Homo sapiens: one gene and its partners. The protein of the gene in region 2 interacts with the protein of the main gene of each other region in a biochemical or structural test. Each region holds a gene or a part of one and is shown on either strand. Other genes may lie near its edges. The genes, in order: TLE1, FOXG1, TLE6 and SRF.

Region 1 (7,729 bases), on a different chromosome or scaffold from region 2:
CGCCTCATCTGTGTGCTTTTTCTCAAGCATGACAAAAGCAAAAAATGTCAATACAGTTATTTCTGAGTTAGAATCAGGTAAAACTTCATAGGAACAAGGGAAAGAAACTAACCTTTCTGGGAAGTTCACTATTGGCAAAGTATTTTACAAAAATTTATAAGTCCTTTGAAGGTAAGTCTCATTACTTGAAGAAACTAAGGCTGAGATGGATATAAATGTGACTCCACTCTCTCATCCTACCCAAACCAATCCGAAATGACGCCAAAGCAGGTGAGCTTTCTTCTTTATACTATTATACCCACCTCCCTCACCATCACCAATGATGGGCAATGTTATAAGCATCTAGCCTTCCTTAATGGACTTTGCCTCAGAAAACCCAATTTTCTAGTATGGCAAACAGCGATTTCAACATGGCTTTGCTTCCCTGAACCCACACTCCAGGACTGAGACATCGATTGAACCAATGTTTCAGCTCAGTCTGCTGAAAAATAAATACATGAAGTGCAAATATTGACGATTCTCATGCAACTCCTAAAGACATGAAAAAGGACTCCCTGGAACAGTGCAAACCGGCAAAAGGGAAACAATGGGAGGAGGAGGAGACAAGAGAAGAGGCGGCCCGGGAAGAACCAGGAAAGGGGGTAACTTGAATGACAGGTCTTAACTGAGACTCCACACGCCACCGCCTGGACGCAAGAACTAAGTACAGGCGCCGCCGCCACCCGGCTGGGTGCAAGGGGCACCGGGACGCCCGCGACCACTCGCATGGCGCGGCCGGACACGCACCTGTGATACTGCGCCTGCAGGAACTGGAATTCCTCTTTAATCCGGTCCAGGGACTCCGGGATAGTGAACTTGAAGGGCTGGCCTGCAGCCTGGTGCGGCGTCTGGGGGCGACCAGCGAGGGGGACCGAGGGACGGGAATGCGGGCGGATGAATAAAGCAGTAAGTCAGAGAAGGCAAGAACGGGTGGGACATAAACATAAAGTTAGAAGTGGCTGAAAACGAGGCCCCAAACTCGAGTTTGCCCTTCACTATGGGGAGGGGGAAAGCGGACCCTCCCCGGGCCCCGGCTTCTAAAGAGGCTCGGAAGCTCTTCCCAGTCTCCAGGGCGGATTGCGCTAAGTGCGCCCGGGTCACCAGGCCAAAGGGAAGGGGGCTCCCCGGCGGCCAGGGAAGACCAGGCCAGATTGTCGGTGTCGCCGCCCCTTCCCCCACGGCGGCGATAATGACCCCGGGGACCAGAGGAGAAAAACAACTCCTTTACGCTCCCCATTCCCAGAGTCGCCGGGGCCACCTCCAGACGCACCGGAACCGGGGCCGCATTGACATGTAAATAGGCGAGAGGAGAAACAAAGGGGGGGGCGCCCTGCCCCCACTCGGGGAAGGTAGAGGGGATATGGCTGCAGGAGAGAAACCCCAGCCTTCCCCAGCGCCCCTGTCCGCTCGGTATAGACGTCAAGTAGGAAGGAGCCCAAAGGGAGGGAGAAAATTAAGAGTTTCGGCCCACTCCCCACCCCAGGAAGAGAGGGCCCCAGACCTCCCCAGCCTTACACCGCTGAGGGCGAGAAGGTCCGCCGGGCCTCAGAAGCCACCAGTCTCCCTACCGCCCGGGAGAAGCGCCTCCCCAACGATCCTGGCCCCCCACCACCACCCAGCCGCGCCTCACCGGGTGCCGGCTCTGCGGGAACATCGCTCTGGCGGCGGCCGGGGCTCTGTTCCCCGGCAACTCAATTCTCCGGTCAATTTCCAACTTTAATCCCGCCGAGGAAAATTAAGCCGGAAAGCCAAGCAGAAGCGGGGAGCGCGCTGGCCACGCACGCGCGCTCCGCCGGGCGCACCGGCCACTCGGCGCCCGCAGCTGCTCCGGCTCCCGCTCCCGTCGGTGCGGGCTCCGGCCCTCAGGGCCACATTAGTGGGCGCCCCAGGCCCAGCTGCTTCAAGAACCTGCGCGGAGACGTCGGGCGCTCGGGGACTGTGCGCGGGGGCAGCGCTCCAACCCCCGGCCTCAGCTGCCCGGGCGGGGAGGCGGGGGCGCGGTGACTCCGACCGCACTCCCCTCGGCGATCCGCGTGCGCGGCGCCAGTCCTGGGCAAACAAATCCAGACGGACTGCTTTTCTTTGCTCTTCTCCTGGTCCGCCTCCTCTTCGGGCTTTCCCCGAGGCGGCGGCGGGCGAGGTGCAGGTGGCGCGGCGGCCCCCGCTAACCCCACACAAACCCGACGCTTTCGGGGCGACTCCCGCAAGATTCGGCTGCGCCTTCGGCCGGGTGCTCGCAGGCTCCCGGGACGCAAAGGGGAGCGAGGTTGAAGACGCAGCGGAGGCTCCTGGCCGGGGAGCGACGGATGACGAGGCGGGGAAAGTGCGGAGGGCGCGCCGGGAGGCGGCTCGGCACGCCCCGTGCGACCAGCACTCGGTGTTCTCCGCGGTTGCACAAACCCTCCGGGCCCGACGGGGCTACTCCACCGAGAGCAGTCCCGCAAGTGCCCAATGCTCCTCGAGCCCGGGGAGCATCAGGGCGCCGCGCCTCGGGCGCACTCGCCCTGCACGGCCGGACCGGCCGCTCCGGACCCTTCTTCCGAGCTCCTTCTTCCTCGGTCTTCTTTCTTTCCTTCCTTCACCTTCGTGTGCTTCTCCGCAAAGGGCGCTCCAGCCCACTGCAAAGTTCTCTCACCACCCGAGGGACGACATCCACGAGATGGTGGGGAAAACAGCAGGAGTGCGCTCCGCCAATCGGCCACCCTCCCCGGCGGGCAAACTCTGCGGGCGAGTCCAGAGTAGTCACAGCGGTGGGGCCAGCGGGGGTTTTGGTCGCCGCGGGACGACGGAGGTCCGGGCTGGTGGCGCGGGTCCCGCCCGGCCGTGCGAGGGTGGGGTGGCGCAGTCGGCTGCCTCCGGGACGCGGGGCACAGAGTACCCGCCGCTGTTTCTGCTGCTGCTGCTTCTGCAGCCGCCGCTCCCACCGCCGCCGCCGCCCGCGCCTCTCGCGCCGCTTACATTAACACGCGGTTTCACACTCCGGAGCTAACCAGCGCCGGCCCCGCCCAGCCCCGTTCGGGCGGGGGGCGCGAGCGCGGAGCCGGCGGGGGACGTGAGCCCGGGAGGTTGGGGGGTGGGGGGGGGGCAGAAGGCCCGCATCAGCCAATCGCGTGCGCTGCAACCAACGTGGGGCGCTGACGCGCTCCTCCCCGGAGCGTATGGCAGCGCAGCGCCGGACGGGGCGTTCTCCCTCCCCCCCTCCTCTCGCTTCCATCTCCGCCGTCTCCTCGGTCTCCCTTCCCATCCCGGCCCCTCCTCCGCCAGCCGCGTCCTCCCGGGCTTGGTGAGGAACTGTTCCTGGAGGAGCCGCGGGACGCCAAAACCAGCCAATGGGAAGCGGCGATTCGCGGAGATTGGCACTGATGATGGGAAGGTCGGTGGGAAGGAGAGCGGCGGGGCTGGGCTGTCAATCAAAGTAACGTGGGGCTGGCTAGAGAGCGCGCGGGCGCGCGCTAGCGGGAGGGACTGGCGAGCGTGCAGCCGGGGAAGCTGAGGGCTCGAGTTAGCAAAAATCCTGCCACTTGCTCACTTTTCCCTTTAATGAAAATCCTCAGATCTAAGTGAAAGTAACTCAAAGACTAGCTGCGGAGTTTCTTATTGGAGGCGGAGGGGGGCTTTTGGTAATTCGAGCAAATGTGTTTTTCAGTGCTGGACCCCTTGTTTGATGCTACTCTAAAAGTGAGGCCACATTCAAAAATTTATCTGAGGTTTGTTTTTCCTTGAGCTGCCTTTTTACGGATGTACGAGAGGGAGTGGACTGTGCACTTAGTTGGAAATGCGTAAATGAGCAACGCCACGGTTGGCGTAGGTACACCAGCAAAGACGACTGTGATGTCCTCCCACCCCACCCACCCCCTTTGCACCCAAAGTGGTAGGATTTGATTTTTATTGCAGGATTTCAAGCCACTTTTCAAAAAGATCGTCCTGTCCCGTTTGGCGGGAAGGATTCCCAGGGTGCTGCCAGAACAAGGCACGCGTGTCCGCAGATGAGACGTTTTGCCCGGGGCGCGAAATCCCAGGTCTTCGTCTTAAAAGTCCTGACTTCGCTGTGTTGGGAGAGGTGGGGAGCGGCTGAGGTTTTTAGGAACTTCTCAGCTACAAGACTACGAGTCTGTTTCCAATTCCTGGGAACAAAGAGAGACAATGTAATAAACCAGCACTGAGACCTGAAAAACCTGTCCCGCACACCCCACCCCCACAGTCTGGGTGGTACTCCTGAGCTGAGCTGTGTGAAGAGCTAAATGGGAAGAGTTAGGTAAATGACGTGGCTAAGGTTCTTATGAAGTGGAACTTGAGTTAAAAGGGATTTTGAGATTGTAATAATCAAGACATGCTGTATAATTAATGCTGAGAGTCTTTGGTTTTTGTGTATGTCTCTAAATACACAGCAGAAAACCGTCAGTATTGCCGCATTTATGCTTTTGTTTGAGGAACATTTCCACATGAGCAGTGAATGAATAATGCTGGTTTAGCCAAACGGTGGTAACTTCTTCCATAAGGGCACATCTTGGACAAGTATTTATCTTATGTTGGAAACTAGTTAAGTTTTTGGTATTAATAACCCCCACGTTATTATTTTATTATTTTACCTTCAAGAGACTTACGGGAAGGAGCTTATTTAAACAGACATACATTTTATTTAAAGATGTGCTTTTACAGAGTTCTTTTTCTTGAAATAGTTTTAGAAGTCATTTTAGATAATACATTTCACTGTTGGAGTTGTTTTTAAATATGTATGATATTGATTTGTCTATAATTGCATCACTCCCAAATATCAATTATAAATGAAAAAATAAAAAAGCGATTTTAACCAGTCTGTACGAAGCCATAGTAAATTCTTAAACAAGTTGGGCATTGTAGCTTTGTGGTGTTCTCATTAAGTACAGTTGGGAAGGCGGCTGTATTATTCATTTTGCTAACATGGAGAACAAAAAAGAAGAAAGCACTGCCTCACTTTCCTTGGTTAAATTTGGTGACGATGACAGTTTTGCTCGACATACAGGACTTTTTGGAATCATAGGATCCCAGGGCCTTTAGCAACCTGTTTTCCTTGAAATTATCTAGTGATTGAGCCACATATACCAGTCTGCGGCCAGTTCATCCCATAATCAGCTCCAGGACCGGACAGAAAGTGCTTGGATGCCACAAGTATGCTTGTATACATGCTGTGACAACTGGAGCAACTGATATTCCTCCCCGGCTTACCCAGGCTTTATGTGGTGCCTGTATCTTGAATAACTGGCACACTCCCATTAAGTTTAAACAGAGCCATTAAAATATGCTTTGAGATGGGGCAAAAGTGTTGCTACTTCTCTTCTTTCCCCACCCCGCTGCCCTCAAAATCAGTACTAAGGCATCTTTAAATGTTCTCTAACATAACTACTCACAGACAATGTGTCTGCTCACCATATTTCCCAGTTTGCCATGAGTAAACACTAGAAATTCTCTTTTAACTAGTCTTTCCTTGCCAATAGAGTTTGAAACACCAGGCCTTCTGATTTCCTTATAATGAAGTATCTGTAGTATCTACAGAGCATTATGAATTTAAAATTGGAAGGCCTTTAATTGTGTGCATAAAAATGGTTGGTTTTGGTTTTTGAAGCCTTTTTTTCCCATTTAGAGCATCGTCTGTCAGAGTGGGAGAAGGCTCTGCCCTTTTCAAGGTCATATTTTCTCCACGATTGTCATGCTGTAATAATTATACTACAAAACTCTCATCAAACTGCATTACAAATGACGGCGTTTAAACAGTCAAGTAGCTTTAATCTTATGTTTTAAATAAATAATATATGTGCAGATTGCCTACAGCCTGTTTAAAAGAAAATAGTCCTCCTCATGAAATCTATAATTTTGGTCTTCCATTTAAAGCCTGTTAACCATAATCTTCTTTACCTTTAACATTCATATGTCAATGATGTTTTTATGTGAAATGTATGATGCTCCCACTGGAAATTTTCTCTGAAAAACACAGTACCCTTTTTATGCTCTGCAGAGAAACAGAAAGATTGTCAGCTTGTTCATTTTCTTTTGATGCATATGTGGGTATATTCCCATTCATTTGTTGCTGATTATCAAATTTTCAACTCAGCAATAGCCTAAGTAATTACAAAAGCTAGATGTTATCTAGTACAGATACTAAACAAAATAGGAAAAGTTATAGATGCTGATCGTAGCAACTAGACATCTTTTAAATCTATTACTTTTTTATTTGAAATAATAATTGTAATTTTTTAATTTTTTTTGGAGACGGAGTCTCACTCTGTCTCCCAGGCTGAAGTGCAGTGGTGCCATCTCAGCTCACTGCAACCTCTGCCTCTTGGGTTCGAGATTCTCCTGCCTCAGCCTCCCCAGTAGCTGGGACTACAGGCGTGTGCCACCACACCCGGCTAATTTTTATATTTTTAGTATAGACGGGGTTTCGCCTTGTTGGCCAGGCTGGTCTCAAACTCCTGACCTCGTGATCCGCCCTCCTCAGCCTCCCAAAGTGCTGGGATTACAGGCATGCACCACCACACCTGGCCAATAATTATAGTTTTTAACAGACCACTTTTGTTGTGTTCTCTTCCTTTTAGCTGAGAATTATTGCTCATACATTTCCTCATTTGACTTTTTTTTTTTTTTTGAGTCAGCATCTCGCTCTGTCACCCAAGCTGGAGTGCAGTGGTGCGATCTCAGCTCGTTGCAACCTCCGCCTCCGAGGTTCAAGCGATTCATGTGCCTCAGTCTCCTGAGCAGCTGGGATAACAGGCGTGTACCACCACGCCCGGCTAATTTTTGTATTTTTAGCGGAGACAGGGTTTCACCATGTTGGCCAGGCTGGTCTCGAACTTCTAACATCAGGTGATCCGACCGCCTTGGCCTCCCAAAGTGCCGGGATTACAAGCGTGAGCCACCCCGCCCCACCTTTTTTTTTTTTTAATTGATAGTTTTCTTAAACCTAAGAATGTAGGGTCCAGAAGAATTTTTCCCAGCATTTCTTGGTAATCTTTTTCTCCCCCACTCCTTTACCAAAGAAAAGGGCAAGATGGACGTGGAGGTGAAAGGAAGAACGCAGAGAAGGGAAAAAAAATCAGTAGCAGATCCATGCAGCAGTAAAACCTCAAATAAAATCACTTCCAAAGAATCTCTTGCGGTTTCACACAATATGGTAAAATTAGAGATTGCAGGAAACCAACTAAATTAAACTGGGAGCATTTGAAGAGAAATGAGCAGACTTTATGAAAATGACACATTGACTGACCAGTATGCTTTTTTATCAACAATTTCTTTGTTAAGACGAAGATCAAAGGAACCTGCATATGTTTTCATTTTGTTCTAACTAGAAAATTACATCCAGATGTTTAATAGGCATTTGGTTGGTTTTTCAGCATTGATTAGATATGTTGGTTCTGTTTGCTTACAAGTGCAGCCGGATCATTAGCTAATGCAAAGAAATGTTTGCTGTGAGTTGCTAATTAGGGCTTTTGGAAGCCCTCCATGCTCAAGAACAATTTGTACTGTGGCCAGAAGAACTTGAGGGACTTGGGGAAGTTGTTTTCCCTTCTCTGTCAGAGTGGGGAGAAGCAGAAAGCCCTATTCCCTAATCTCCCTTTGCCTAGGGGGATTGCGATGAGATCCCCAAGGATTGGAGTGCAAATAAAGTAGGAAGAGACCACACAGGCACTCCCAAACATGGAGAGATAAATGTTCT
Region 2 (7,962 bases):
AAATTAAAGGAGCAGTTTAAATTTTAGTTTGGCTGAAAAAGCCTTTGAATTCCCTATAAGTTGATTGGTCTTTAAAAAATTAGCTCTACTTAATAAAAGAGACAAAAGTATCAAGATATATATGAATTTAGCCTATTTTTTATTTCTGTGTGTTCATAGTAAACATTTTTGTAAGTGACAAACACGGGCATATGACCACAGTATCACAATCAAGAAATTTTAAGACAACATTAACAATCACTCAAATTTATGCGGCATTTGCGCAACACAGGTTACATATTTGCAAGGTTTACCTATAAGTACAATAGGTATTAACATTTCACTACATTTAGAAAAAATAAAAGTGACCTGTTAGTGACCACATACATCAAAATATACACAACACAAACTGAAGGCAATCGTTAATTTTGTCCCCTTCTGATTCAATTGAATGGGCAGTGTTGCCAACTGAAACAACTTTCCTTTTTGTTTGTTTTAATACTTAGTATACCAAGTGCATTTTCTAGAACCCAATCTTTGGTCTAAAAGTAAACAAAAGAAAAAAAAACAGTTCTTTAAAGAAAAGGACAAAACAATAAATGGCCAAAATAATTTCTTGGGCACCTTTACTACGAATGCTTTTTAAATACAAATTACAGTTTAACATTTTAAAATTCTCCCCATAATTTAGGTTGTTCTCAAGGTCTGCGTCCACCATATAGTTCCATGATAACTTATAATACTGCACACATGGAAATCTGGCGGCTCTTAGAGATAGACTTGTCAGGTTTGAATGAAATGGCAAAGCAGTCACTATTTAGATACACATTCTACTATAATTTGACTTCCAAACCTTATATTCTACAATGTATTCTCCCCACATTGCACCTCGCTGACACTCCACACCTTGTTAGAATAATAAACAACCCTAGAGACTGAACAAACGTACAGAAATGGGAGGGGGGGGCTTAATAAAAAATACCTGGACTTATTTTTTTAATTATCATTTACAATGCAAATGTGTGTAAAACGTTCACTTACAGTCTGGTCCCAGGGATGTTAATGTATTAAAGGGTTGGAAGAAGACCCCTGATTTTGATGTGTGAAATAATCAGACAGTCCCCCAGACAGTCCCGTCGTAAAACTTGGCAAAGAGGGTCTTAAAGACTCACAGGGCAGGGTCGAGGGGGCCTGCGGCGACGTGGAGGAGGACGCGGCCCTGGCGCTCATGGACGTGCTGCTCTGCGAAGTCATTGACGGGTGCGGGACGTGGGGGAAAAAGTAACTGGTCTGGCCCGCGAGCAGGTTGACGGAGCAGGGGTTGAGGGAGTAGGTCCCAGAGCAGGGCACCGACAGGCCGCAGGGCACCGAGGCGGCTAGCGCGGCGGCCGTGAGGTGGTGCGTGGCGTACGGGATCTCCCCGTTGACCAGCCGGTCCACGCTCAGGCCGTTGGCGGTGGAGAAGGAGTGGTTGTTGCCCAGCGAGTTCTGAGTCAACACGGAGCTGTAGGGCATGGGGTGGCTGGGGTAGGCCGACGTGGTGCCGTTGTAACTCAAAGTGCTGCTGGCGCGGGGGTGGTGCAGGGACAGGAAGGGCGACATGGGCCAGTAGAGGGAGCCGGCGCGGTCCATGAAGGTGAGGCCGGTGGAGGTGAGGCGCGCACCGCGCTTGAAGGCCAGCTTGGCCCGCGAGGTGGTGGAGCGGCGCCGCAGCTTGCCCGTGGTGCCGCCGATGAACACGTCGTCGCTCGACGGGTCCAGCATCCAGTAGTTGCCCTTGCCCGGGTCGTCGTAGTGGCGCGGCACCTTCACGAAGCACTTGTTGAGGGACAGATTGTGGCGGATGGAGTTCTGCCAGCCCTGCTTGTTCTCGCGGTAGTAAGGGAAGTTCTTCATGATGAACTCGTAGATGCCGTTGAGCGTGAGCCGCTTCTCGGGGCTCTGCCGGATGGCCATCATGATGAGCGCGTTGTAGCTGAACGGCGGCTTCTCGTACTTGCCGTTCTTCTTCTCGCCCTCCTTGCCCCCCTCCCCGTCCTTGCCGCCCTCGCCCGCCCCCTTCTTCTCCTCCCCCCCGGCGCCGGCGCCCTTCTCCTTCTCGTCCGGCCCGACGGGCGCCAGCTCCCCCGGCCCGCCGCCCGGCTCGCCCTTGCCGCCCAGCCCGTCCGCTTTAGCCCCGTCCAGGGCGGCGGCCGGTGGTGGCGGTGGCGGCGGCGGGAGCAGCAGCTGCTGGGGGCCCTTGTCGTCGTCGGCGGCCGGGGCGCCCCGCGTCTGGGGGGGCTGCGGTGCCGGGGGCGGCGGCGGCGGCGGCTGCTGCTGCTGCGGCGGCGGCGGCGGTTGCGGGGCGGGCGGCGGCGGGTGGTGGTGATGGTGGTGGTGGTGGTGGTGGTGCTGGGGGTGGTGGCTGTTGTGGTGGCCGTGGCTCGCGTGGTGGTTGTCGTTCTGGACCGCCTCGGGCACCAGGCTGTTGATGCTGAACGAGGACTTGGGGATCATTTTCACCTCTTTCCTATCTCCCATGTCCAGCATCACCCAGTCGTCGGGGGGAAACGGCGGCGGCGGCGCGGGAGCGGGACAGCGGCGCGGCGGGCGGCGGCGACCGGTGGGTGCCGAACGGGGCGCGGGGGGCGCGGGCGGCAGCGGCGGCACTGAGCGCTCCGGCAGCAGCGCAGTTGGACCGCAGGCTCGGGCGCTGGCAAGTCATGTAGCAAAAGCAGCAACCACCCCTCAGGAATTAGAAAAAAAAAAAAAAAGGAAAAGAAAAAAGAAAGAAAGAAAAAAGAAACAACCACCGCCCCGGGGGTGAAGCTCCCTCGCTCCCAACTGTACTTCTTGGTCTCCCCCCCCACCCCCCGCTCCCCCCCCCGCTGCTTCCTCCTCCTCCTCCTCCTCTCGCAGCAGCAGTCACAGCAGCAGCAGCAGCAGCCCAAAGGGGGGGAGAGCCGGGCGGCGGGCGGGCGCGTCCCGGAGCGGCCGCGGCGAGGCTGGGGAGACAGCGATCGAGGCGGCTATAGCCACAATTAATTTTCCGAGCTACAGGCGCACACTAGGGCTGTAAAAAAATTTTTGGTTTAACCTTTCCTACCGCTGGGCCAATCAGAGCTGGCGGCGTGCGGGAGCGTCTCTCTCGCCGTCGACCAATCGGAGGGGCCGGGCCCACCCACCCCCGCCCCGCCCGCCGGCTGCCGCCCCCTCGGGCGCTCGCCTCCCCCTCTCCGCGGGCCTCGGACCCCGAGGCCGCGCGGAGCCGCGTAGGGATACGCCGGCGGGAGCACGCGGTGCCGCAGCCCTTCCCTGCGCCCCCGCCACCCCCTCCACCCCGCCGGCTCCGCTCCACCGAAATTCCCCTCCTAGGGCCAATAGCTCACATTTCCGGCTTCCTCCTCATTGTACTGGGTCATTTTCGTTTAAGCGTCAATATTTGTCCTTAGTGATTAAAGTTTGTATCCAATTTTATTTTTGAAAGCGGGGGTGGTGGTGGTAGTGGGAAGAGTGGGAGTGCAGGGAGAGGATGCGAGAGGGCAGGAAATGGAGGAGGTAGAGGCGAGGCACTACTTTTCCGAGTCGGCCTTGCAGGCCAGTGTCTGGCATTTCTGAGCCAGCAGGAAAATTGTGCCCTTTGTAGGTAATAGTCTAGCGCAGCTTTGGATAAGGGGGGAGATAAGGCCCACCGCTGGCGTGTGTGCGGGGGTGTCCTTTACTTCGGGGGAGGAGGGTGTGGGAGAGCTTTGGGAGCGATGAGATGAGGAGGAGGAAGTGGGCAGAGGAGCGCGGGGCCAAACAGGGGTTACTTACTCGATTCCTGAGGCCTGGGCGGCGGCGAGCTCCGGGCTCCGGCACCGCGGGGAAACCGGGACTGGGGCTCCGGGTGCTGCTGCGGCGGCCGGGGCCGCTCAGTAGTGGGCGCCTCTGATGGCCTTCCGAAATGAGAGGTGCCCAGAGAGAAAACAGTACCAAACAATCTCGAAATAAATCAGGTAACACATGCTATATACGTGTGTCTCTTCCTTTTCCTTCTCTCCTGCTCCAGAGCGTCGCTCACGCGCGGGGTGACTCGATGTCGTTTTCTCCTCGCCGCTCCAGCCTCAGCTTCTAATCCGAATTGGAAGCGGGTAGCTGCGAGCGATCACCCTGGAAATATTTTCGTTTTGCTTGTTGACATTGGAGGGAAAATAAGGGTGGGCGTCTATTTCTTTCCGGTTTTTTTTTTAAGCCTTCCTATTTTCACTCCTTTTTTTTCCTTTCCGTTTCTCAAATGCTTTTATTTTGTGCGGGCCTCATTCCTGAAATAACAGTATACTGAAGCCAGCTCTTGCCAACCCTGAGTGCTGCTGGAAAGCACCGGGGAGCCTTGGGAACGTGGATCTCACAGTCCCAGCTTCTTGGGCTTTGGAACTGGGAAGGTTCGGTTGGAGGTTGAAGTGAATGGGGAAATTGCGAATCGGGGGCTTTAAAAGGATCCCGTGGCCAGGGGCAGGGCTAAGGCCCAGCATTTCCCAGGGATTGGAATTTAGTGGGGAGCACATTGATCAAAGGCTGTTTCATCCCACATGGGCACGAAACATACCACATTTTACGGAGGATGTAGCCCCAGAGAAGAGGGAGGTGGAGAAGCATAAATGAAAGGCACCTTTTCCTTCCTCTAGAAGGTAAATAATTATAAAATGTAAGCATTTCTTCACTTGGATAAACTTTCATTAAGATATCTGGCAGATTTGGTATTTAAGAAAACGAAGGAAGGAAAATTGGTGCTTATGCTTGATCCTAAAGTTAAATTGTAACATAAAGAATGCGGTTGATGAATACTCAGGATAATAGGGGGTTATTCCATCCTCCCCACCCCCAGTCTTAAGAAAGAGAAAGAGAGAAAAGGTTGGGGGGGGGGGAGGAAACTGGAGAGAATAATAGATAATTACAAATAGCTAGTGAATTTTAAATATGCATCTATTAGGAATGCCACAAAGGAGCTTTGAATATTGGACTAACCTCAAATGTCCTTCCACTGTATGTATGTATCTTTACCTATGTCTACATATCTTCTCACTTTAAAACAAACTGTATTTACATGTGGAAAAATTCAAGGGTTCCAACAATCAGTGTTGATAGTGACATGGTCCCAAACATTTATTTCCAAGCTCTGGATTTCTCGCAGGGCCGGGTGAGCTAATGGGCTTTGCCTACCGGCTGGAGAGATTTGTGGGCCTTCCCCTTCCTACTCACTTTTCCTCCTCCCACTCTTCTCCCCTCTTCAGGCCCGTTCTTCCTACTTTTCCTCAACTCTCCTTCCTCCCTCCTCCCTCCTTCTCCCTTAGCTCCCCCCGCCCCTTCCCCCCACCCTCCATTCCTCTGTCTCTCCATTCCTCCACCTACTCCTCCCAATTTCTCCTCTTACAGCCCCCCTTCTCACCACCACTTATAATGGCACACAGGGCTCCCTCTGAGGTGGACGGCCCGGTACGTTTTCGTAGTCGGTCTAGCGTGAAATGATTCGGTGTAACCGGATTCTTGGGAAAGGACAGGTTACGTAAACATTTACTGATGTGGAGTAACTATACTATTTGTACTCTGATATGCAGGAAGGAAAGTGTTGATTAACACAGAAGAAAAAAAAAACGAAATTAGCTGATTGCATGCTCATAAGTGCAAGCTGTCATTGAACTGCTTTTAAAATAGACACAGCTGGGTGTTTGTGTTGAAAAATTTCTTGTGTTTTTGCTAATACTGAAATAAGCATGATTTTGTATACCAAACATTTTCAGATCATTAAAATTTGTAATCTGTGCTGGTTTTAAACACAAAGAAAAGAAACAGAATCATTTCGATGTAAAATTTGCTGATATTATATTAACTCAATCAGGTCTGTACAAATTGTGCATTGTGCCTCCTAAAATCTGTTTGATCAATTTAATACACAAAGTGCCAAACGTGGGTATTGTTTGTTAACATTGGACATTTTATTCAAATCCGAGCTCAGCAGCAAACTGGAGGAGCTTTCCTTCAATACAACACCAGCTCTGACTGATGAATTTTTAATGTTTTAAGGTGTTTCTTAGGTCAAATCTGAGCGTGCATTGTTTTGTAATCCTGTATAAAATTTTAGCAGGTGGAAATAAGTTTTTCTTCTGTTTACTTTCAAATAGCAAAAACTGGGGTTTGCTAATGAGCACTGTAATAATCTGATTTTATATGCTAGGAGCTCATATTGACTGGGAAAATGTTTTTCATTCAAATTAAGGCTATGTTATATAGTTTAAGGATTGCATGAATGCAAGTCTCTCAAAATAGGATATTCTTATGGGCATAAATAGTATATAGTTTAATGTAATATTTAAAAATCTATTCTTCCTAATGACAAAAGTTATTTGTAATCTGGCAAGAAGTGAGTTTTAATTCCTTTTAATAATTTCAATTGCACTTTATGTCGAGATGGTGATATATATATATACTCACACACATATATATGTGTGTGTGTGTATATATGTATATATATATAGCTTGTTCAACAAAACATGCACTGTTTACTCAGCACCCCGTGTTTGTCTCAGCAATAGCTTTTTTAAAGAACTGCTACTATTTGAAATGGAGGGGGAGGGGGGTCCTGGACAGAGTATTGTGCAAGTTGAAAGTCTCTGGATGGGGCTTTGTATATCCTACCAGCCAATTTGGGTGCAAATTGGATTTGAAGGCCTGCCTCTGTCCACCTCGGGCCTCTTCCCTAAGCACTGGAAGCCCAATCTTCAGCCCCACTCAGTCACCGTGATTACCTTCAGAAGACAGAGGGAATTCAGTTGTCTCAGACCTGAAACAAATTCTCTATCATTCTAATTTTTTTCTCATGATGGATCTAACCTTGATCTCTCACACAGACATCTACAAATGTGTACTATTAATGAATAAAAGCAGAAGTCAAAGTAAATGTAATTTTCTGGTATATATCACAGTAAACTTCTCTCTTGCTCTGTCTGCAGTCCCCCAGCTCTCCCAAAGAGGTCAGGCCCCGTAAAGAGTGAGCAGTTCCAATGGAAGAATTGGTTAGGAAATGAATTAGATTATTCCTTCTGGAGTTTTAATTAATAACCAAGGCTACACAGCATACTTCATCCGAGTAGGGAGCAGAACATTTCATTTTTCCATTTGGCGGTGTTATTTAAGTATTCTTTAGGGCCTCTTTCCTGTTTTCAGTCAGTGATCCGCCTCTTTTCTTCTTGCTAGCTGCTGGTTAAAGGAAGGTGGGCCCCATTTACCTAAAATCCACTCTGCTCTCCATTCCCTGGACAGGGTGTCCTTGGAGTGGCACCCAGCGCCAAGCTCTAGCTAAAGTTCTCTTCCTGCAGATGCACAGAGAATTTCTGACCTTGTGACGTTTGGGAGTGAGGAGATCCCATACAGAGGCATCCAGGTATTTCCAGAGATCCTGTGGCAGGTGAGGTCTGCCCTCGCTGGAGCCAACTCGTCTATAATATCTTCCTAACAGCAGGTAATGGTGCTAACATTTAGTGATTAGAAGTTACTCTTTAGCGTGTTGTATCCTCGTTCTGTGGGTTTTGGTTACAGGTTATACGATTAGGTTTGCGAGAACAGTAGTGAACTAAACTTCTCAGTAAGAGGTCTTCACACCAGGGAAGTGTTACTTTTCTGCAGCAGCCCTGCCTCGTCACTCATTAGGGAGCTGCAGGTTGTCAGTGGCTGCTCTCAGCGCGCGCACGCGCACCCTCAACGTCCCCGGGGGCGCGCACATTCGCGCGTGTGTGTACACACACACACATACACACACACACACACACACAGCACTAAAACTAAATTAAGAAGCCGATGATTAAGACAAGCGTCTACTAGGCCTGTCATTTCAGCATCCTTCCATCATAACATTGTGGCACCGGCAATTTTGCTTGAGAACCTCGAGTAAAAAAATCTATGGGAGAGCCTCGTCTATGAGAGTGGAAATGTTTAGCTTGTGTAAGCTAGGGAGCCACTTTAAAAGGG
Region 3 (7,016 bases), on a different chromosome or scaffold from region 2:
AGGGTCCTGGAAGCCCTGGGCTGTGGGTCCTGGGCTACTCCAGTATAGCCTCCTGGATCACCCAAGTCCCCCCCGGGGGACCCGAGGGGCAGGATGGAAGGAAGACAAATCCCACAGGAACCCCAGTGCCCTGACCTGGGGGAGCCCAACCGCCTGCCCGGAAGCCCACCCCTCTGGATAGAGCTGAGGTTGTTTACTCACCAGGCCTGGTGCCTGCTCTGTCACCATGACAACGGAGAGGAGGAGGGGGACAGAGAGAACAGCAGGGTTCACTGCACAGCCCCTGAGACGCAGCCTGTGGCTGCCCCTTCCCCCTCACCCTCAGGGACACTCACGTCTGTCTCTGGGCTTTGCCTTCTCATCGTGGACGCCGGCAAAAATCCGCCAGAGTTGCTCGGTCAGAGTGTCGTGCCAAAACCAAGGCTCCTTGTCCCAGAACAGCTGGGTCTCCGGCTGATTGTCCTCCCCCAAAGGCCGCCGGAGCCAGTCGGAGGACCTGGTGGCCATGATGTCCTCAAAGCTCGACTCCTGCAGGGTCTTGTCCTTCACCTGCTGGGGCGTCCCAGGGCTGGCTGGTTCAGCAGGTGAGACCTGGCCCGGCAGGAACAAGGCAGTGAGAGCTTTGAGGATGAGCCTTCACCCAAGCCTGTCCCCTCCCCTCCTTGAAGACCCAGAAACTCACCTCCTCAGACTGGAAACCCTGGAGTTGGCTGCAGCTCTCCACAATCTGTAAGACGTTTCCTATCTAGAAGGAGGTTGGCAGCAAAACAGTTAAATGTTGTTGCAGTTAAGGGTTTGCAATCCTACAGCATGATTATCCCCACCTGTAGAAGAAGGTATATCAATCTACTTGTTTTTTTGAGACAGAGTCTCACTCTGTCACCCAAGCTGGAGTGCAGTGGTGCAATCTCGGCTCACTGCAACCTCCGCCTCCCAGGTTCAAGTGGTTCTCCTGCCTCAGCCTCCTGAGTAGCTGGGATTACAGGTGCACACCACCACACCCAGCTAATTTTTGTATTTTTAGTAAAGATGGGGTTTCACCATGTTGGCCAGGCTGGTCTCCAACTCCTGACCTCAGGTGATCTGCCCACCTCAGCCTCCCAAAGTGCTGGGATTATAGGCATAAGCCACCACCCCCAGCCTTCATCTACTTTTTTGCAGATAAGATCTCACTCTGACACCCAGGCTGGAGTGCAGTGGTGCGATTACAGCTCACTGCACCCTCAACCTCCCAGGCTCAAGTGATCCTCCCATCTCAGCCTCCTGAGTAGCTGGGGTTACAGGTATGCACCACCACGCTCAGCTAATTTAAATACACTTTTTGTAGAAATGGGAGTCTCATTATGTTGGCCAGGCTGGTCTTGAATTCCTGGCCTCAAACTATCCTCCCACGTGTGCCTCCCAAAGTGCTGGGATAACAGGTTTAAGCCACCGCATCCGGCCTATCGCACCTGGCATATATCTTTTTTTTTTTTTTTTTTTTTTTTTTTTTTTTTTTTTTTGAGACAGTCTCACGCTGTGGCCCAGGCAGGAGTGCAGTGATGTGATCTCGGCTCACTGCAACCTCCGCCTCCTGGGTTCAAGCAATTCTCCTGCCTCAGCCTCCCAAGTAGCTGGATTACAGGCGTGTGCCACTACACAGACTGATTTTTGTATTTTTGGTGGAGACAGGGTTTCACCATGTTGGCCGGGCTGGTCTTGAACTCTTGACCTAAGATGATTCTCCTGCCTTGGCCTCCCAAAGTGCTGGGATTACAGGTGTGAGCCACCACACCTGGCCCCAGCTACTCTTTTTGGGATGTTTTAAAAAGAAAACCTGACCACCACCACACTTTGCTTCAAATGACTTCAAGCAGGCCGGGTGCGGTGGCTCACGCCTGTAATCCCAGCACTCTGGGAGGCCGAGGCGGGCGGATCATGAGGTCAGGAGATTGAGACCATCCTGGCTAACATGGTGAAACTCCATCTCTACTAAAAATACAAAAAAAAAAAAAAAAATTAGCCAGGCATGGTGGCAGGTGCCTGTAGTCCCAGCTACTCGGGAGGCTGAGGCAGGAGAATGGCTTGAACCCAGGAGGCGGAGCTTGCAGTGAGCCCAGATGCGAGATGATGCCACCGCACTCCAGCCTGGGTGACAGAGCGAGACTTGTCTCAAAAAAAAAAAAAAAAAAAAAGGCTTCAAGCAGCAAAACAGCATACCTAGGTCTCCCTAGGTGAGGAAGACGTTTTAATTTGCTTAAACTTTGGAAAGATACTAAGAAACTGAGGGTTACCTGCTGGGGAGAATTGATAGAAACAAGTCAGTGGTAATTTTTTTTTCTCTTTTGAGACAGTCTTGCTCTGTCGCCCAGGCTGGAGTGCAATGGCACCACCTCTGCTCACTGTAACCTCTGCCTCCTGGGTTAAAGCAATTCTCCTGCCTCAGGCTCCCAAGTAGCTGGGATTACAGGCACCCGCCACCATGCCCAGCTAATTTTGTATTTTTAGTAGAAATGGGGTTTCTCCATGTTGGCCAGGCTGGTCTCGAACTCCTGACGTCAGGTGATCTGCCCACCTCAGCCTCCCAAAGTGCTGGGATTACAGGCGTGAGCCACCTCACCCAGTCTGGTGTTTTATTTAAAACGAACAAACAACAACAAAAATCAAGCCATCTGACCACTGTCAATCCCGAAGTTAAATGTAGTTTCTCAGTAAACAGAATAAAATCGAGATCAATACCATCCAGTACAAGTAGAATTGGAATAATACATAAATATAGTCATGCATATGGAATGTCTAGTAGCCATGTTCAAAGTATAAAGAAATTGGCCAGGTGCGATGGCTCACACCGGTAATCCCAGCACTTTGAGAGGCTGAGGCGGGCGGATCACCTGAGGTCAGAAGTTCGAGACCAGCCTGGCCAACATGGCAAAACCCTGTCTCTACTAAAAACATAAAAGTTAGCCAGGCATGGTGACACACACCTGTAATCCCAGCTACTTGGGAGGCTGAGGCAGGAGAATCACTTGAACCCAGGAGGTGGAGGTTGCAGTGAGCTGAGATCCTCCCACTGCACTCCAGCCTGGGAGACGGAGCATGATCCGTCAAAACAACAAAAAAAGAAAGCAAGGCGAGTGATCCTATCTCTTAAGTTTTTTTCTACAAAAAGGCTACCTGTCTGTTTCCTTAGCAGGACGGCGGAGGGAGGGGCCGGGAGGGGAGACCCTCCATCGGAGCCCCGCGGGGGGGGGGGGACTCCAGGCTGATGCCTCCTGGGGCAGCCAGTGATGGATTTCCCAGCTGAGCCCGCCCAGCAGCAGCAAATCCCAGGGGAGCCCTCTCCAATTCACCCCGCCTCGTTAATGCGCAATTTACCGGCACTTTAATGCGCTCAGCATGAAAAGTGTGGCTCCCTTGTGCCTGCTAGCAGCCCTCCCGGGGGAGAGTGGCAGGCGGGCTGTCGGAGGAGGGGGCTGTGCTGATGGCGATTTTGAAAGCACAGCGAGGCGGCTGGGAAAGCCCGGAACTGGAAGCAGCGGGTGGGGGAAGCGGACTGCCCAGGACCACAGGCCAGGCTGGGCTGCCAGGGATCCTGGGGCCCCCTGCAGTGGGGGCTGGGCAGGGACCCTCCTGGGTCTGGCTGCAACCGAAGTGGCTCCTTTGCTCTGGAGCCCTCACCCCCTGCGTATCCTGATGCTCAGCAGCTGCGGTCAAGTTCCTCCCAAAACACGTCCACAATTATTCAATTACTTCTCATCACTAAGCAACCAGCATTCCACACCTGGACTGTCCTAACTGGTTCCCGGGCTTCTGCCCTCATCCCTCCTCCTTCTTCTCTGTCCTCTCCGCAGTAGCCAGGGCCTGCCCTCTGTCTGAAGCCCTCCATGGCTCCCACCTCCCTCCCTCAGGGTTCAAAGCCCAAGTCCTCCCTGAAGCTCACAGGGCCATGCGTGGCCTGCCCTCCCCCCCTCCTCCTCTCACTCTGCTCCAGCCATGCGGGCTTCCTCGTAGTGCCTTCAGGACCAACACAACAGGCACCGTCCTGCCTCAGGGCCTTCACACAGGCTGTGCCCTCTGCCTGAAATATCCCTCCCATCCCAGACAGCCACACTTCCTCTTTGATGTCCTTTAAGCCTCCGCTCAGATGTCACCTTCTCGCATGCCTTCCCTGACCACCCTGAATTGCAACCCTCGCCCACCCTGGCCTCCCCAATCCCCTTGGGGCTGCTCTCTTCCATCCCCCGCCTTGCCCAGCCCTCATCCCCTAACACTCCATCTACCAGGCTCCACTCGCCCCAAGGGTGGGAAGCTCTGCGTCGTTCTTTGCTATTTTCCTGGCTTCTACAACAGTATTTGGCAAGGAGGTGATGGATAAATATCTGCTGAATGAATAACCATGTTTTGGTTGCTTCCTGGCCCCCCCTCACCCTGTTCCCTTCGCTGCCCCCCTCCTCCCAGGCCCTGCTAAGTTGCAGACACGGCCCTGGGCCCCTGCCAGTTACATCTGGCACAGGCGGAAAATCCTGCCAGCGCCTGGGAGAAAAGGCCAGGTGGCGGGAGGACAGGCAGGGCTGGAAGGCGTACTTCTGCTTGGGCCAGGCGCCCTGGGCTGGGAGATGGGAGCCCGGGCGCCCCCTCCCATGCAGAGCTCCCCTCACTCCCATGTCATATGGCCCCTCATTGAACACTCAGACACGCAGGGGAACACAGCCGGGTGCCTGCCCCATCACAGGCTCTCTCTGTCCAAAGCAACTGACCGGCAAAGGGTCATCTAGGTTGCGCAGGGGCCCAGGGAGCGGAAGGAGCAGGACTGACCCTCTCTTGGAAGCAGCTCAGAGACAGGACAGGAGATGCTCCCCAAGATATGGGGCCTCCACTAATATCACGGGGGCTTCCAAGTCAGGGCATGTCCCTCCTCTGCCAGCAGTCCTCCATGGCTCCCACCTCCCTTGGGGTCAAAGCCCAAGTCCTTCCCACGGCCCACAAGGCTCAGCATGACCTACCCCTCGTCCTCTGTCTTCACCATCCCCCACCTCCTTTTTTTTTTTTTTTTTTTTTTGAGACAGAGTCTCGCTGTCGCCCAGGCTGGAGTGCAGTTCCACGATCTTGCCTCACTGCAATCTCCACCTCCCGGGTTCAAGCAATTCTCCTGCCTCAGCCTCCCAAGTAGCTGGGACTACAGGCGCCCGCCACCACGCCTGGCTAATTTTTTTATTTTTAGTAGAGACGGGGTTTCACCATGTTGATCAGGCTGGTCTCGAACTCCTGACCTCAAGTGATCCACCCTCCTCGGCCTCCCAAAGTGCTGGGATTACAGGTTTGAGCCACTGTGCCCGGCCCCCCTCTGTGCTTTCTCATGCCTTTCATGGAGGGACAGCCGCACCCCTGAGCTCCTGGTCACCCACCTGCTTGTGATGTTCTGCCACATCCTGCTGGATCTTGTGCAGCTGCAAAGGGAAAACAGAGATCCCATCGGGAGGTGGTCCGGGTGTGAATGCTGTGTGACCCTGGGCAAGCTGCTCTACCTCTCTGGCCCCTACTCCCCCACCTTAAATTTTTGTTTTCACCTTGTTTTCTCTTTTACTTTCTTACTACACTGATGTATGGTCCCTACCTTTTTTTTCCTCAGAGAGAGTCTTGCTCTGTTACCTGGGCTGCAGTACAGTGTGATCTCAGTTCACCGCAACCTCTGCCTCCTGGGCTCAAGCGATTCTCCTGCCTCAGCCTCCCGAGTAGCTGGGAGTACAGGCACCTGCCACCATGCCCGGCTAATTTTTGTATTTTTAGTAGAGACAGGGTCTCTACTATGTTGGCCAGGCTGGTCTCCAACTCCTGACCTCAGGTGATCCACCTGCCTCGCCCTCCCATAGTGCTGGGATTACAGGCGTGAGGCACAGTGCTTGGCGGAAAAGAACCTCTCTAGGGCACTCAGGAGGCAGGGCCGGGAAACCAGGGCCTCAGCTTGTCCCAGTGGGGCCCTCCTTGGTTGGGGCTGCCTGGGTCTGGCTCACCGAGTAGTAAATGCTCTCCAACTCCGCAGCAAAATGAGGAGAAAACCTGAGGGGGAAGGAGGACAGGCTGGAAGACCTGTGGCTTCAGGACTCCCTCCCCAGAGTGAGCCCCACCCTCAACCCCTAGGGAGGGTCTCAATGAAGCTGGAAGGCACTGGCTCCAGAAGCCAAATTTAAGGCAGTGTCAAGAAGTTCAGTAAGATTTTAATGCAGTATATTCTTTTTTTTTTTTTTTTGAGACAGAGTCTCACTCTTGTCACCCAGGCTGGAGTGCAGTGTCACTGCAACCTCCGCCTCCTGGGTTCAAGAGATCCTCCTGCCTCGACCTCCCGAGTAGCTGGGATTACAGACACCTGCCACCACACCCAGCTATTTTTTTGTATTTTTAATAGAAACAGTGTTTCACCATGGTGGCCAGGCTGGTGTCAAACCCCTGACTCCAGGTGATCCGCCCACCTCGGCCTCCCAAAGTGCTGGGATTACAACAGGCTTGAGCCACCGCGCCCCGCCACTTTCTTCAATTTTTTTTTTTTTAAACAGAATCTCACCCTGTTGCCCGGGCTAGGGTGCAGTGGTACAATCATGGCTCACTGCAGCCTCCAATTCCTGGGCTCAGATGATCCTCCTGCCTCAGTCTCCTGAGTAGCTGGGACTACAGGTGTGCACCACCACACTCAGCTAGATTTTTTTTATTTTTTAAGAGATGGCATCTCGCTATGTTGCCAAGGCTGGTATTGAACTCCGGGCTCAAGCGATCTTCCTGCCTCTGCCTCCCAAAGTGCTGGGATTACAAGTGCAAGCCACTGCACCCAGCCCATGCAGTACTTTTTTTTTTTTTTTTTTTTAAAGACCGAGTCTCACTCTGTAGCCTTAGGCTTGAGTGTAATGGTGTGATCCTGGCTCACTGCAACCCTCCGCCTCCTGGGTTCAAGAGATTCTCCTGCCTCAGTTTCCCAAGTAGTTGGGATTACAGGCACCCACCACCAAGCCTGGCTGATTTTTGTATTTTTTGTAGAGACGCGGTTT
Region 4 (7,952 bases), on a different chromosome or scaffold from region 2:
CGGTCTTCTATCAGGAAAGTGAGGATGGACACCTGTCCCCTAGGACGAGGGTCGTTAATCCGGCTCCACTCCACATCGGTGGGCACCTATCCACCTGTCCTGGGCCAGAAAGGGAGAGGGACCCCACTCCCTTCCCTCCTCTCACATAGGCAACCCAAACACACCTTGGTCTCCCCACTGCTGTCAGACTCCGACACCTGGTAGGTGAGATCTGTCTCTTCAAAGCCAGTGGCACTCATTCTCTGGTCTGTTGTGGGGTCTGAACGGGGTGGAGAGTCTGGCGAGTTGAGGCAGGTCTGAATCAGTGCCTTGCCGGTCTCACTGGTGATCATGGGCTGCAGTTTTCGGGTGGCAAAGGTATACACATGGCCTGTCTCACTGGCCACCAGCAACAGCACCTGTGTCCCTGTCAGCGTGGACAGCTCATAGGCCTGAGGGGTGAGGAGGGAGATGGGCAGGTCAGCAAACTTTTTATCTCTACCTTCCTTGAGAAGTTGGAAAAAGAATTATACAGTGATGTCATTCCCCCATTCCCATAATGACCTTCGTCTCTAATGACTCTGAGGGCAGGGTGTCCTATCAGGATCTCTGGAAGCAGCAAAACTACCCATGCTCCTCCTTTGAGGAGCAGCCCCATTGACCTGAAGATACCCCAAGCAAACAGTAACAGCCCCCAGTGATGGAACATATAACTTCAGGGGATACGAAGGACCCAGCTAGCTGCTCCCCAACACAGCTTAGTGCCTGGAATGTCCCAGAGCCTCACCCCTTCTCACTGTCACAGGGACCAGGATGGATCCCTACCTATCACACTGGAATTTGTACAAGACATTAGTGATAATGGACCATTTAAGCTCCAACTGTCCCATGTTTCTTTCCAGAAACTGCACAGGCTCCAACTTGTTGCCACAGCCTAGTTTCTCCTTTTGCCCTGTAATACTTTACTGCCCTTACTCCTTTGTCTTGGGAAGAAGGTTATGGAAGGAGAGAAGAGAGTTTTCCTTAATTACCTCCCCCCACAATCTTCTCCACTGATGATCAAGTGACAAGGGACACTGATACAACAGTGTCTGGAGTGATGGGAGACGAGACCTAGATTAGCACTAAACATCCTGCCATGAGCCCAGGAAGGGGACCTTCAAGGATGGCCCCATAGATGCCATACTCTCCCAACAAAGTTCTGCAAACCACCTTGGAAGCAGCTCTGGTTTCTACATGGGACAGAAATAAACACCAGCCAGTGTTCCCAAGGATCCAGCTCCTTGTCTCCCAGTTCCTCTGCTTTCATCTCTTCCCTTATCGTCTACACCCCAAAATGACTCCTTTCCTCAACACTTTTCACTGGCTGGCAGAAGAGGAATTCCTAGGTACCTCTGCAAGCCTCCCTGACTTCCCCCAAACCCCATCCAAGCATAGATTCTCCCTAGGGCTGGAAACCCCACTTGTCCTAACGGCAGGAGATTCTGCAGCGGGTCCTGCCAGGAGCATGTGGTTCCCAGTGGATGCCATGGAAGACTCACGGCCGGCGCAGGACTAGGTTCCTGCTGCTCAGGGCAGCACCAGTTCTCCTGCCCCGCTCCCTTACCTGGTCCCTAACCCTGCCTGTCCTTCCAACCAGCACTACTCTCGTGGTGCCCACTTCCTCCCACACATGTTCGCTCATTGTTGTCATGCAGCTCCAGCCTCCTCACCTCCATACCTTCTCGTTTGCTCCCTGCTTTTCCGGCGCCCTCGTCCGAACACCGGAGTGCACTGGACCTACTGATCCCGGGTTCTCATTATCCACCTCCCCGGCAGCCTCGTAGCCTCCCATCACCGCTCCTCACCCCTTCACTCAGCAAGGGCCCTCTTCCTCTCTGGCGCCGGTCACTCCCACCTCTGCGCCTTTCCCCACGGTTGCGAGCGTTCGCGGGATCTCCCCTCTCCCCACATTTCCCCGGCGGCCCCTCCCCTTCGGCCCTCCCCGGGCAGGAGCCATCCCCTCCCACACACCTCCTGCGGACTCGCAGCCTCTCACCTCCGCCTCGGCTCTGCGGTCCTCCCGGGCTCCCTTTGCACATCCCCACCCCAACCGGGCCCCGGGGCCGGCCAGCCCCCCGGCTTGGTACCTTCTTCATGATGCCCGTCTTCCTCTTGCTGAAGGTCGTGTAGCGCCGCAGCTTGTTGTCGATGAACTCCATCTTGATCTTCACGCGGCCCCGGGTCTTCTTACCCGGCTTGGCCCCGCTCACCGCGCCGCTCACCGGCCCGTAGCCCCCGGTGGCCGCTGCCGACGCCTCGGGCCCACCGACCACCATACCGATCTCCATCTCGCTCAGGCTCCGCTTCAGGCCGCGCCGCTCGGCGCCCAGCTCCTCCTCCTCGCCCGACTCCGAGTCGCCCTCGCTGCCGCTGTAGAGGGCCCCCGCGGTGGGCGCCGGGGTGGTTGCCGCCGCTGCCGCAGCCTCCCGCTCCAGGCGGCCGGGCCCGAGCCCCGCGCCATTCCCGGGGACCCGGCCCCCGTTAGCCCCGCGTGTCCCGCCGCCGCCGCCCGGCCGCCCCGTCGGGGTCCGGTTCAGGCTGCCCCCCAGGGCCGAGCCCCGGCCCAGAGCCGCCGCGGCCCCAGCTTGGGTCGGTAACATGGCGCTCGATGCAGGAGGGCGGACGGGCAGTCAGCGAGGAATCGGAGCCGCCGCAGCCGCCGCCATCGGCTTCCCGGCTCAACCCGGCACTCCCGCTGCTGCTAGTGCCGCTATCGCTGCCGCGGCCGCCGCTGCGAACCCGGGGCCCCTGCACGCCCGGGCCGACCTGGGCCCTCACTTTCCTGCCCCTGTGGCCCGGGTTGCCCCAGGCCGCGCGCAGCGCCCCCTGTCCGTCTGCTAGGGCGGCGCGCCGGGCGGCCGTCAGCGTCCCCCGGGGGGCAGGGGCTGCTGGCCGCGGCCGAGACGGCGGGTGGAGGGGGCCGGGACCACGCGCTGGCGGCGGAGGGATCCCCCGACCCTTCCCCCCATATAAAGAGATACAATGTTTCCTTTTATGGCGAGGCCGCTCCTTATATGGTGAGCCCCAGCGCCCCCGCCCCATTGGTCCGTGGTTCCGGCACCTCCGCTCCCCATTGGCCCACAAGAGGGCGCTTATTTGCATAGACATACCGAACTCGTTGCTGTCATCTCGCGTCAGACCGCGACTCTGAGAGGGGTGGAGCCGACGCCTCTTAAAGGAACCGGAGAGCAGGCACGATTCCGCCTCCCTGAACCCGAGAATGATAGAACGGTTTGGGAGGCACCCGCGGAGAAGGAGGCTGGGACTGGAGCGCAGTCTTGCGGAAGAGAGGGAGCAGCACTAGTAAATGGGCACCGGGACCGCTGGAGGCAAACACTGGGGAAACCCCTGGGTGGATTGTGGGGTTTGCAGTAAATAAAAAAATACAGCCCAAATTCCAAGGGAGGAGTGCAGGGATTGATTGGAGCATTTCCTCACGCCTTCCTAAGGGAGGCACAGTTATTGGCTGAGCGGAGAGAGCTTGGGTCCCCGCCCGGTGTCCAGACTCGTCGCGCCCCAGCCTCTCAGCTCTAACTTTTCCCCTACCCCCAACTTCCCTTCCCTTTCCCTCGCTTTTGTAGGCGACGAAACTTTCCCACCGGGCTGGCTCGAGGATCTTCATTCATCATCCTCTGCACTGGGGGGTCTTTGGCAGACATACATCTGGAAAAGGCTGGTGGAGGGGAGGGCGAGAGAGAGAGATCGGCCTCCCAGTCCTGAGGCGGGCAGGGAGGAGAGACGGAGATCAGGGAGGAGAGATGGAGATCAGTGAAGACTTCCAGCTGCAGGCTGGACTTGGGGAGGAGGACGTCCCGAGGATAAAGCCCACCCTACAGCCAGTGCAAAGACTTGGGAAAGTGTGGCCCGACAGAAAGTTTAAGCCCAAGCAAGCACGCTCGCGCACACACACGCACATACACACACTTCTCTGGAAAGCCCGTTGGAGAAAAAAAAAAAAGTTTCACACAGGGTATCGCTCTGTCGCCCAACCTGGAGTGCAGTGGCGGGATCTGAGCTCATTGCAACCTCTGCCTCCCGGGTTCAAGCGATTCTCCCACCTCCGCCTCTCACGTAGCTGGAACTACAGGTGCGCGCCACCACTCTGGCCTAATTTTTGTATTTTTTGTAGAGATGGGGTTTTGCCATGTTGCCCAGACTGGTTTCGAACTCCTGGCCTCAAGCGATCCTTCCCCCTCGGCTTCCCAAAGTGCTGGGATTATAGGCATGAACCACCGTGCCCAGCAGAAAAAAAAAAAAAAAAAAAAAAAAACTTAAAAGATTAGAACTGGGGTGCTGCAAAGTGAGGTTCAAGCTCTGGGTCTGGGTCTTTTCTCCAAAGCAGTGAAAATAGCTTGGACTTTGCTGTTACAGAATTATTTAAATCTGGAATCTGCCTCTTGGTAAGCCCTGTGCCTGGAAACAAGTGACAAGTGATCTGATCTCTCCAGACGCAATATTCATCAATGCTGCTATCCATTCCCTGAGTTTTTTTTTTTTTTTTTTTTGAGACAGAGTCTCGCTCTGTCGCCCAGGCTGGAGTGCACTGGCACGATCTCGACTCACTGCAACCTCTGCCTCCCCAGTTCAAGCGATTCTCCTGCTGCCTCAGCTTCCCAAATAGCTGGGATTACAGGTGCCCACCACCACACCTGGCTAGTTATTTTGTGTTTTTAGTAGAGATGGGGTTTCGCCATGTTGTCCAGGCTGGTCTCGAACTGCTGACCTCAAGTGATCCTCCCACCTCGGTCTCCCAAGGTGCTGGGATTACAGGCATGAGCCACCATGCCGGGCCTATTCCATGAAATTCTTAATGCAGATTTAATGACATAAAGACTAAAGGGCAGAGTAATTGGTCAGTGGTTAGGCAATAGGAGTTACCTGGAGTAAGTCACCTCATCCTAGGGATAAAGCATCTTGGCATGTTTAAGGGGATGGGAGGCAGTGATTATTCCTGCCCGAAAAATTATGGAGATTAAATAAAGCAGTTGATTGTAACCTAGTCATTACTGGTAGTGGTAGTGATATCAATTCAGTATACTACAATCAACATTTAAAAGAATAAATTAATGGGTATCACAAAAAGCAAGGGCAAATATTGTTGCATAAAATGTTTGTTTGCATTATATATAGGTTGAACCCTACAAAATTGCCATTTTATAGGTCAAGAAGGTGGGATATTGTCAATTTCTCATAATTCAGTGTATGTGTGTAATGGATGACAATATTAACTGCATTTCTTACTGTGAGTCACAATCCAAAAGCTTGAAAAATACTGAAATAAAATATGTGCAAGTGATCAGTAAAATATAGTGTGTATTTTGTGTGTATAGTGAATAAAATATAGTGTGTATTTTTTGTCATATAGAGATAAGGTCTCCCTATGTTGCCCAGGCTGGTCTCAAACTTCTGGGCTCAAGCGATTCTCTCACCTCGGCCTCCCAAAGTGCTGGGATTAAAGGCCTGAGCCACTGCACCCAGCCCCCAATAGTTTTAAAGAGGTCTCCCCTCCCTCCACTAATTTACTCTTTACAACAGGTACTTAAACATATGGAACGTGTTAGCCCAAGAGGAAGAACAGGTCAAACAGATAAATAGGTTCCAGAAGGGTTTTAGGGACCACAAATGATGCCTGGGGTCATGTTTTGTCTGAGCACCATAATATTACAGCCAAAGCTCTGGGATTTCATTCCCACCTGCCCTCTAAAGACCCTTTCATTTGCGCCCCCTAGTTTAGACACATGCAGGGGTGACATCCCTCAGCAGGGACAACTGCTCTCTGTCACATCTATAGGGGAGGGTGTCTGGGAAGAACGCAGTCCTTAGCTTCCCTTCAAATAGGCTGCCCTCTCTTCAACTTCTCCCAACTCCTGGGTCATTGCACACCAGTGTTAGTGTCACAGCTTCTCTGTCTGCTTGGGATGGCCCATCTTCATGTCCTTTGTCACCACAGGGAGTCAGGAGGAGACCTCTACCCACACTATTGGATTACTGCAGGTTCCAGAGCCAAAAGTATTGCTAGGGATAAAGTCAAAATCAAAAACTGTCTCATAGAGGTGTTTTATTTGGACCTTATAACATTTAAAAATCATAAGAGTTTACATAAAAATCTGAATGTCTGGCCGGGCGTGGTGGCTCATGTCTGTAATCCCAGCACTTTGGGAAGCTAAGGTGGATGGATCACTTGAGGTCAGGAGTTCAAGACCAGCCTGGCCAACATGGTGAAACGCCATCTCTACTAAAAAAATAAAAAAGTAGCCGGGCATAGTGGCACACATCTGTAATCCCAGCTACACGAGAGGCTGAGGCAGGAGAATCACTTGAACCTGGGAGGCAGAGGTTGCAGTGAGCCTAAATGGGGCCACTGTACTCCGGCCTGAGCTACGGAGTGAGACTCCTTTTCAAAAAAAAAAAAAAATCTGAATATCTGACCTCTCTCAAAAAAATCAGAATTTTTGGTAACACTGGGCCTAGGTACCCACAAAAGCATTATAACCTGGAGCTGATGGTGGCCATAGAAGAGGCTCTCCACTTTACCATAGACTCCACGCAGCCTACTGAGCCTAGGTAAGCTCCTGCCTGGCTGCTCTGAAATGTGAAGTTGAAATGTTCCTCCGAAAAGGCCTGATCAGAGTAGCACCTTGCAACAGATGGGAGCTCATGTCCACCCCAGACCATGAAGGGCCTCTGTAAGTGCATGGGAATTTCAGCCAGATCCCTCACACCACACAGATTCCACCCTGACCTTTCTTTCTTTCTTCTGATTTTTATCACCTAACTAATAACAAACAAAAATTAAGGATTGCTTTTAAAAATTACTGTCATGGCTGGGTGCAGTGATTCACACCTAAAATCCCAGCACTTTTTGAGGTCAAGGTGGGAGGATAATTTGAGTCCGGGAGTTTTGACACCAGCCTGGACAACACAATGAGACCCCATCTCTTAAAAAAAAAAAACACAGGCAGGCAAGGTGGGTCATGCCTGTAATCCTAGCACTTTGGGAGGCCTAGGAGGGTGGATCACCTGAGGTCAGGAGTTCAAGACCAGCCTGGCCAACATGGCAAAAATCCCACCTCTCCTAAAAATACAAAAATTAGCCGGGCCTGGTGGTGTATGCCTATAATCCCAGCTACTCAGGAGGCTGAGGCAGGAGAATCACTTGAATCTGGAGGGGAGAGATTGCAGTGAGCCAAGATCGTGCCACTTCATTCCAGCCTGGGTGAAAGAGTGAAACTTCATCTCAAAAAAAAAAAAAAATGCTGGGGCACAGTGGCACGCATCTGTAGTCGTAGTCCCAGCTACTAGGGAGGCTGAGGTGGGAAGATTGCTTGAGCCCAGGCTGCAGTGAGCCATGATGGCACCACTGCACTCAATCTAGGTAAGAGGAAAACCCTGTCTCAAAAAAGAAAAAAAAATTACTGTCAAAATACCCTAAATCTGTTTTCATTTGGAATTAACCTTTACTCAGGGATTCATAATTTTGCACAGAGGCAAAGAGGGTATCAATTGTGATGGCAGCATTAGCAGTAATGGAAAAGAATTTATGAGTCATTGTGCCCAGGAAAAGTCTGGAAAGCCACACTCCAAACACTAATAGTGCTTACCTATGGAGAGTGAGGTTTGGGATGAGAGGGGTGTGTTTTTTTGCTTTATATAAGTTTGTACCATGTGACTTCTTTGACAATCAATATGACTTTTATATTTTTCTTTTAAAATTAAGCAAAAATAGGCCGGGTGCGGTGGCTCATGCCTGTAATCCCAGCACTTTGGGAGGTTGAGGCGGATGGATCGCTTAAGGTCAGGAGTTTGAGACCACACTGGCCAATATGGTGAAACCCTGTCTCTACTGAAAATACAAAAAAAATTAGCTGGGTGTGGTGGCGGGCACCTATAATCCCAGCTTCTGGGGAGTCTGAGGCAGGAGAATCGCTTGA

What was found.
Region 1: the proteins of FOXG1 (region 2) and TLE1 form a complex in vitro, tested with the Homo sapiens proteins (one study listed by BioGRID).
Region 3: the proteins of FOXG1 (region 2) and TLE6 form a complex in vitro, tested with the Homo sapiens proteins (one study listed by BioGRID).
Region 4: the proteins of FOXG1 (region 2) and SRF form a complex in vitro, tested with the Homo sapiens proteins (one study listed by BioGRID).

What each region holds. Positions count from the first base shown.
Region 1 is NC_000009.12:81,686,548-81,694,276, forward strand, and holds the start of TLE1 (transducin-like enhancer protein 1), read right to left. Parts: upstream 3,001-7,729; 5' UTR 1,694-3,000; coding exon 1,670-1,693; intron 888-1,669; coding exon 787-887; intron 1-786. UniProt on the Homo sapiens protein: Transcriptional corepressor that binds to a number of transcription factors. Inhibits NF-kappa-B-regulated gene expression. Inhibits the transcriptional activation mediated by FOXA2, and by CTNNB1 and TCF family members in Wnt signaling.
Region 2 is NC_000014.9:28,761,826-28,769,787, reverse strand, and holds the start of FOXG1 (forkhead box protein G1), read right to left. Parts: upstream 3,002-7,962; 5' UTR 2,509-3,001; coding exon 1,039-2,508; 3' UTR 1-1,038. UniProt on the Homo sapiens protein: Transcription repression factor which plays an important role in the establishment of the regional subdivision of the developing brain and in the development of the telencephalon.
Region 3 is NC_000019.10:2,980,558-2,987,573, reverse strand, and holds part of TLE6 (transducin-like enhancer protein 6), read right to left. Parts: intron 6,037-7,016; coding exon 5,991-6,036; intron 5,427-5,990; coding exon 5,385-5,426; intron 4,379-5,384; exon of another isoform or gene 4,260-4,378; intron 4,191-4,259; exon of another isoform or gene 3,961-4,190; intron 3,905-3,960; exon of another isoform or gene 3,355-3,904; intron 746-3,354; coding exon 683-745; intron 592-682; coding exon 336-591; intron 219-335; coding exon 202-218; intron 1-201. UniProt on the Homo sapiens protein: Component of the subcortical maternal complex (SCMC), a multiprotein complex that plays a key role in early embryonic development.
Region 4 is NC_000006.12:43,166,326-43,174,277, reverse strand, and holds the start of SRF (serum response factor), read right to left. Parts: upstream 3,010-7,952; 5' UTR 2,622-3,009; coding exon 2,109-2,621; intron 1,883-2,108; exon of another isoform or gene 1,814-1,882; coding exon of another isoform or gene 1,700-1,813; intron 432-1,699; coding exon 165-431; intron 1-164. UniProt on the Homo sapiens protein: SRF is a transcription factor that binds to the serum response element (SRE), a short sequence of dyad symmetry located 300 bp to the 5' of the site of transcription initiation of some genes (such as FOS).